3 separate regions of the Homo sapiens genome follow, and all the other regions are linked to region 3. Evidence: fine-mapped expression QTL. A gene starts in region 3. Each other region holds a variant in brackets. All regions are shown on one strand. Distances are from middle to middle.

What was found.
Region 1: its variant is fine-mapped to the expression of LPXN in blood mononuclear cells (TOPMed, PIP above 0.99).
Region 2: its variant is fine-mapped to the expression of LPXN in whole blood (TOPMed, PIP above 0.99).

The regions. Positions count from the first base shown.
Region 1 is chr11:58,446,138-58,448,906 of GRCh38, reverse strand. No RefSeq gene overlaps it. Among named protein-coding and RNA genes, the nearest start is that of OR5B12, 5.3 kb to the right of the region's middle. The variant G/T (reference allele first, on the strand shown) is at 1,531.
Region 2 is chr11:58,655,210-58,657,978 of GRCh38, reverse strand. No RefSeq gene overlaps it. Among named protein-coding and RNA genes, the nearest start is that of CNTF, 34 kb to the right of the region's middle. The variant A/G (reference allele first, on the strand shown) is at 1,113.
Region 3 is chr11:58,574,252-58,577,020 of GRCh38, reverse strand. LPXN (leupaxin) reads left to right here and starts at 1,165. Exons shown (of 9, transcript NM_004811.3): 1 at 1,165-1,261. The coding sequence starts at 1,249. RefSeq lists enhancers at 1,173-1,222, 1,233-1,292.

The sequences.
Region 1 (2,769 bases), 130 kb after region 3:
AGAGATGAGGATCCAGTTTCATTCTCATACATGTGGCTAGCCAGTTATCCCAACACCACTTGTTGAAAAGAGTGTCCTTTCCCCACTTTATGTTTTTGTTTGCTTTGTTGAAAATTAGTTGGCTGTAAGTATTTGGGTTTATTTCTGGGTTCTCTATTCTGTTCCATTGGTCTATGTGCCTGTTTTTATACCAGTACCATGCTGTTTTTTGACTATGGCCTTATAGTATAGTTTGAAATCAGGTATGCCTCCAGATTTGTTCTTTTTGCTTAGTCTTGCTTTGGTTATGCAGGCACTGTTTTGGATCCATATGAATTTTAGAATTTTTTTTTTCTAATTCTGTGAAGAATGATGGTGGTATTTTTATGGGATTGCATTGAATTTGTAGATTTTTTTGGCAGAATGGTCATTTTCACAATATTGATTCTTTTGGTGTCCATTTGCATGAAATGCCTTTTTCCACCCCTTTACTTTAAGTTTATGTGAGTTATGTAAGTTTATGTGAGTCCTTATGTGTTAGCTTGGTCTCCTGAAGGCAGCAGATAGTTGATCAGGGAGTTCTTATCCATTCTGTGGTTCTGTTCAATGTTAGTATTGAAATGTGAGGTATCATTGCATTAATCGTGCTCTTTGTTGCCTGTGTGCTTTGTTTTTTGTTTTTGCTTTTTCACTTGTATTTTTGTTTTATAGGTTCTGTGTGATTTATGCTATTTTCATGTGTTTCCAGGATTTGTTTCAAGATTTAGATCTCCTTTTGGCGGTTCTTTTAGTGGTGGTTTGGTAATAGTGAATTCTCTCATCATTTGTTTGAAAAAGACTGTATCTTTCCTTCATATATGATGCTTAGTTTCACTGGATACAAAATTCTTGGCTGATAATTGTGTTTGAGGAGGCTGAAGACAGGGCCCCAATCCCTTCTAGCTTGTAGGGTTTCTGCTGAGAAATTTGCTGTTAATCTGATGGGTTTTCCTTTATACGTTACCTGATGTTTCTGTCTCACAGCTCTTCAGATTCTTTCCTTCATCTTAACTTTGGATAACCTGATGACAATGTACCTAGCTGATGATCTTTTTGAGATGAATTTCCCAGGTGTTCTCTGTGTTTCTTGTATTTGGATGTCTAGGTCTCTAGCAAGGCCAGGGAATTTTTCCTCAATTATTCCCCCAAATATGTTTTCCAAGCTTTTAGAATTCTCTTCCTCCTAATGAACACCAATTATTCTTATGTTTGGTCGTTTAACATAATCTCAGACTTCTTGGATGCTTTATTTATATTTTCTCACTCTTTTTTTTTTGTCTTTGTTGGATTGGGTTAATTCAAAGACCTTGTCTTTGAGCTCTGGATCTTTCTTCTACTTGTTCAATTCTATTGCTGAGACTTTCCAGAGCATTTCACATTTCTAAAAAATGTATCCAATGTTTCCTGAAATTTGATTGTTTTTTCTTTAAGCTATCTACTTCCTTGTGTATTTCTCCCTTCACTTCTTGTATCGTTTTTTGGATTTCCTTGCATTGGGCTTCGCCTTTCTCT[G/T]GTGCCTCCTTGATTACCTTAATAACTAACCTCCTGAATTTTTTTTCAGGTAATCAAGGATTTCTTCTTCATTTGAATCTATTATTGGTGAATTAGTGTGATTTTTTGGGAGTATTTTGTTTGGATTTTTGGAGCATATTATCAGGGCTGGTTTCCTGGTTCCTTCTCATTTGGGTAGTTTCTGTCAGAGGGAAGGTCTAGGGCTCAAGGCTGTTGTTCAGATTCTTTTGTCCCATGGGTTGTTCCCTTGATATAGTATTCTCCCTCTTTTCCTATGGATGTGGTTTCCTGTGAGCTGAGCTGCTGTGATTGTTGTCTTTCTTCTAGGTCTAGCCAACCAGTTAGTCTACCTGGCTCTGGGCTGCTACTGGGGGTTGTCTGCACAGGGTCCTGTGATGTGAACCATCTATGGATCTCTCAGCCAAGGATACCAGCACCTTCCAGTGCAAGTAGCTGGGGGCTGGGGTGGGGGTGGCGGGGCGGTGAAATGGACTCTGTGAGGATTCTTAGCTTTAGTAGTTTAATGCTCTATTTTTGTGCTTTTTGGCCTTCTGCCAGGAGGTGACACTTTCCAGAGAGCATCAGTTGTGGTAGTATGGAGAAGAACTAGTGGTAGGTGGGCCCCTAGAACTCCCAAGATTATATGCCCTTCAGCTACCACAGTGGGTAGGGAAAAACCATCAGGTGGGGCAGGGCTAGGGGTATCTGAGCTCAGACTCTCCTTGGGCGGGTCTTGCTGTGGCTTCTGTAGGGGATGGGGGTGAGATATCTCAGCTTATTGGAATTGTGTACCTAGGAGGATTATGGCAGCCTTTGCTGAGTCATGCAAGTTGTTAGGGAAGTCAGGGAAAGCCGGCAGTCACAGGCCTCACCCAGCTCCCACACAAACTGAAAGACCAGTCTCACTCCCACCATGCCCCACCCCAGCAGCCCTGAGTCTATTTTTAGGTGGTGGGGGAAACGGGCTTGAAAACTCGCCCCAGGCTACCTGCCTCCCATCTTCGAAAGAAAGGTGTTTGGTTGTTCCCCTGCCTGTGGAATCTGCACACCAGATTTGCGCCCTCCCCAAAGTTCTGGCCAGGAGGCTTCTTGCCCTGTTCAAATTGTTACAGAGCTCAGCTAAAGATTTCCTTCTCCCTGTGTAGTTTTACCCCCTGCTCTTCTGGCCACCCTTCCAAGGATCCCTGTGGTGTCAAGCAGGAATGGGCTGTTTGGGGGCCTAGCGAGCTCCTAGGACTT
Region 2 (2,769 bases), 81 kb before region 3:
CCCAGGAGTTGAACACCTTTTTGAGTCTACCCGGAGTATAATCTGAAGCTACCATGAATGTGTGTGTGCAAGGGGGGCCTGTATTTCTGGATACTTTCAGCTTGATTTCAATTTGCAGATTTAAGAGGCTCCCAAAACTCGTGTATGATATTGAAACAACTTTGAATATTGGACTACAGGCCCAGGTCCACCATTGATTAATAATCCTAAACAATAACTCTGCCCAACGCTTTTCCCCTGGGTATTTTTTAGTAACTCTCACTTAGGTTCCTTGGGTCTCTGTTTCATCATTCATGAACTGATTGTTGCTTTGAAGTTTAAATAATCCAATGTGGGTAAAAGCACTTTGCAACCTGTCAAGGGTTTCTGAAGCTTAAGTTGTTGTTTCTCATGCCCAATGGAACCTACCTCCACATTTGAGGATAAAAACACTAGACTCAGTTCATGCCATTAAATTTGGTGATGATTTCTTGGAAATGATAGTTGAAGCACAGGCAACATCAACAACAAAACAAAACAAATTGGACTATATCAAAAATTTTAAGTTCTATGCATCAACAGACACAATCGATAGTGAAAAGACAACCCACAAAATGGGAGAAAATATTTTCAAATCACGTATCTAATAATGGGTTAATATTCAGAATATTTAAACGCTTACTACCAAAAAACAAAACAACCTGACTTTAAAAATAGACAAAGAACCCATTTTTTTATGTACTTATTGGTTATTTGTATATCTTCTTTGTTCTCAAACGACCAATAAGCACACGAAAAGATGCTTAACATCACTAATCATCAGGGAAATGCAGATCAAAACTACAATGAGATACCATCTCACACCCAATAAGATGGTTACTATTGAAAAACAAAACAACAGAAAAGAAGTATTGGTGAGAATGTAGAGAAATGGAAACCCTTGTGCACTGTTAATGGGAATGTGAAATGATGCAGCCACTAAGGAAAACAGTACAGAGGCTCCTCAAGAAATTAAAAATAGAACTACCACATGGCCCAGCAACTCCACTTCTGGGTATAAACCCCCAAGAATAAAAAGCAGAGTATCAAGAAGATACTTATACACTCATATTCATGGCAGCATTATTCTCAGT[A/G]GCCAAAACTGGAAGCAATCCAAGTGTCCATAGATGGATGAATGGCTAAACAAAATGTAGTATCTACATACAAAAATGATTTAGCCTTGAAATGGAAGCAAATTCTGACCTATGCTTCAGCATGGATGAACCTTGAGGCCACTATGCTAACTGAAATAAGTCAATCACAAAAAGACAAGTACTGTGTGATTCCACTTATATGAGCTACCTAGAGTAGTCAAATCCATAGGGACAGAAAGTAGAATATTTGTTGCCGGGGGCTGGAGGGAGGGAATGCGGTGTTGTTGCTTAACAGGTATGGAATTTCAGTTTTGCAAAATGGAAAGTGCTCTGGAGATTGCACAACAATGTGAACATGCTTAACACTATAGCAAGGTACCCTTAAAACTGGTTAAGATGCTAACTTCTCTGTGTTTTTTAACCACAATTAAATGCTTTTCAAAATATCAGAATATGGCAGCTGAAACAAACAATACTTTGTGCAATGTATCTATTTGCCTACCAAAGATAGAGAAGAAAAAAGGCCAGGTGCTGTGGCTCACACCTGTAATCCCAGCACTTTGGGAGGCCAAGGCAGGGGGATCACTTGAGGTCAGGAGTTCGAGACCAGCCTGTCCAACATGGTGAAACCCTGTCTCTACTAAAAATACAAAAATTAGCCAGACATGGTGGCGGGAGGTAATCCTAGCTACTAGGGAGGCTGAAGCAAGAGAATCACTTGAACCCAGGAAGTGGAGGTTGCAGTGAGCCAAGATTGTGCCACTGCAATCCAGCCAGGGCAATAGAGTGAGACTCAGTCTCTAAATAAATAAATAAATAAATAGCACTGAATTAGAGTTTCCAAACCTACCTTGCTTTGCCACTAACTTGGGGCAGAAACAATAATAATTGCTGGCATTTATGGTACACTTACCATGTGCCAGATATCATTTTAAATGTTTTATCTCATTTAATGCTTACAACAGGAAGTACTATCACGTTCCCATTTTAAAGATTAGGGAATTGAAGCAAAATAAAATTAAACAAGCTGCCCAAGGACTTATGGTTAATAAGTGAGTAGCAAAGCCAGGATTCAAACCCCACAGTCTGACTCCAGGGCTGCACTTGTAACCATTGTGCTACCTGCAGAATGGCCAGGAGCGCAGGTCCCACATGGCAATGAACCACTTCCTGTACCACCCACTTCCAAATCCAGTAGCTTCTTCATCCTAGACCTAAAGAAAGTCAAGTTCAGCTATAAACAATACAATCATTTCTTTTAAAACATCACATTCTCTCCAACATACGAAACATCTTAGGATGTATGTTTTCCTTTCACCAATCTTTTCCCTCCACACCCCTTTCTCAGCTCTTTAATCATCTTAGATTGTAAATGTGAAGCATGAGAGTAGAGAACATGAGGGCTGAAGTGGCACCAGTCTGGATGGGACCCCAACTCTATGACTTACTAGCAAGTTACTTATTGCCTCTCAGCCTCAGTTTCATCAACTCTAAAATGAGAATAGGACCTGCATCAACAGGTGGTTTTAAAGATTAAACTGTATAATATCTTAAATGTCTAGCACAGTATTTGACATAGAATGGGCTGTTTGAAGTATAATAACAATTATTGTATAGCAATAATTGGTTGAATATTACTCAACAACTTGAAGCTCTG
Region 3 (2,769 bases):
CAGAACTTCCAGACCAGCCTGGGCAACATAGGGAGACCACCCTCTACATAAAAAATAAAAATAAAGCTTTTAAGCTAACCTGGTGGCGTGATGGGATGCACCTCTGGTCCCAGCTACTCCAGAAGCTGAGAAGGGCAAATCGCTTGAGTTCAGGAGTTCGAGTTGGAGGTTACACTGAACTATGATAGTACCTTTGCACGCCAGCCTGGGTGACAGAGAGCTTGTCTTAAAAAAAGTAAAGAAGGCTACGGTGTTGTAGAGGAAAGATCCCAGACTTTGCAATTATAGTAAGTAGCAAAGCTACCAATTAATTATCTTAGCAAGTTGCTATTACATGAACCTATTTCACCATTGGTAAAAAGGGGGAAAAAATCTATTTCACAGGGCCATAATTATAGTTCCTTACGTATTGCTTTTTTATAGTAGGCCTTTTGTAAATGTTTAATTCAAGGTGAATAAATCACAGTGGTAAAAAAGGTGAAGAGTTAACCTCAGTGTTACTTTCCAAAGAAATTGCTATAAGGCAGTGTATCTAGGCAGGGATTATGCTTAATTGAGATGCACACAGTTTAACATCTGGTGTCAAACCTGGCTTCCTTCTTTGTGACCACCCTATAGATGTTTGCTTTTGGGACCACTGAGTAAACCAGGCCCTGAGAATCCAAGCATGAATCCACTTCTGCCCTACTTTTAAGGATTTACGTTCCATGCAGGAAAGCAGATAACCATAATTTCTGAATAAATAAGACAACAAAATGAAATGGATGCTGGTCAACTCTGATGCAAATTTTAAGAAGGAGACTATGCCTCTGTGTCTCCCAGCTTCACAGAAAAAAAAAAAAGAAAAAAGAAAGATGCTCAGAGTGGGGTACCTACACTTGGAAAAAACGCAAGTATAAGTCTGCCATTCCCATGAATCCAAGATGAATCCTGGCACAGAGTAGGTCCTCAAATTTTGCAAAATTAATTTTGAATCTTTATCACCCTGGCCAATGCACTGCCATAATGCAAATCTTACTATCTACCTTTCTATGTCAGTCACATTTTTAAAACTGTGTAACCTATGAAAAAAAAAAAAAAGCTCACCAAATCAAAAGAGAGGAAGTGCTAAGCAAATACAGGAACCAAAAAGGTTTATAGAGGCTGCCTTATGCTGTCTCATCCAGTTCCTTTGCGGTCCTCTTCTTCAGCACATGCCAAAGCTGTTCCTCACGGCCTGTGAGACAAGAGCATCTTGGATGTAGGACAATGGAAGAGTTAGGTGAGTGAGGAGCCTGAGGAGAAACTCTGAGGGAGTGAAGACTTGGCTGCCATCTCCTTGTGTGGTGGGGTATACTTCTGGCTAGACTGAGGGTAGTAATGGAAGATTTTATTTTCACTTCTTTCCTGTCCTCAGCCCTGCCAAGAGTGAAGCATGAGGAACTATGATTGTTTTGGGGAACTATGGGTTCACTGTTTGCAGTGGCAAAATAGATGGAGAGTTTGGTGCTAACCGCGGAATAAACTCTTGGCAAATACTTTTGGACTGGATTGTTACTGCAGTTGTTGTCTTGTTATGGGCGTTTTGCCCTTTGGAGGTCACTGGAGATCAAGGGTGGCCACATAGCGAGACAATGCAGAGATATGATTTGAGGAGGAAAAGAAAGAGCAAAAAGGGAATTGGGGTGTTATGAGGAAGAAAAGACGGACTAGAAGTATAAGAATGAGGGATCTGTAGAGGTTGGAAAAAGGCCAGAGTGGTTTCATTTGTTCCATGTTTTAGTATTAAATCAAGAAGGCATAGCACTCTAACTCTAGTGATTTTGTTGCTAAGCTTTTTATTCAGAAGAATTCTGAAGGAAGAGATTACTAGGGCCTGAAAATATGACACCTCCTTCCACTCTAAGACAATTAAAACCAGCAGTGGAACTATTAACCATATTAACCAGAGAAATCCTGGATTTCAAACCTTTGGAGTAATGTAAGGTTTGTCATTCTTGGGACTCATTCCATAGCCTTTGCCAACATCTGTTGCCAGCATCTTAACTAACACTGAGTCACTAAACTATACCCAATTTCCAAACTGTATTAATTCCACAGTGTCCTGGTTTGGGGTGTGTTTGGGGATAGGGTATGTCAAAAGTGCAAAAAACAACAACAAAAAATATCTTGCACATTGTTACATTGTCTTAAAAAAAATGGCGTGTGATTTCAAAGCTGGAGAAACAGAGGAAAAGTAAAGGGCAAATTACCAGGAGGCAAGAGATGTTAATGAAGAGAAAAAGGTAGTGTTTAATAAATATCAAACTGCTTTGGAGGTAAAGTCTATTTTGATATTGGGCCAGACTCTTTTTTGGACTTGGGGTAGAATTCTATTTCTTATCCTACGTGAGTGCTGGGAGAATGTGAATTTCTGCTTGAGTTCTAGTAGTGCTAGGGCCTTTTTTCTTTTTCTCTTTCTTTTTTTTGGGGGGGATGGAGGGGACACCGAAAGGCTTTCATGGCAAATAATTCAAAAGGAAACTAATACTTATTTAGTAAATCAAGCAAAAACTAGACATTTTTACATATGTTAATCATTTTAGTGTCTGCAGCAACCCTCTGAAATAGGTGTTATCCACTTCTTTTTCAGATGAGAAAACTAAGAAAAACAAAATAACTTTTTCAATGTCACTGTCGGGAACACCTGACACCAAAACTAAGCAACAAGGTGCTCTCCTATTTTAGAAGTTTATTGGTTCTGGTGTCTGTCCAATGAAGTAACCCAGATTTAACAGAAACTTATATTGT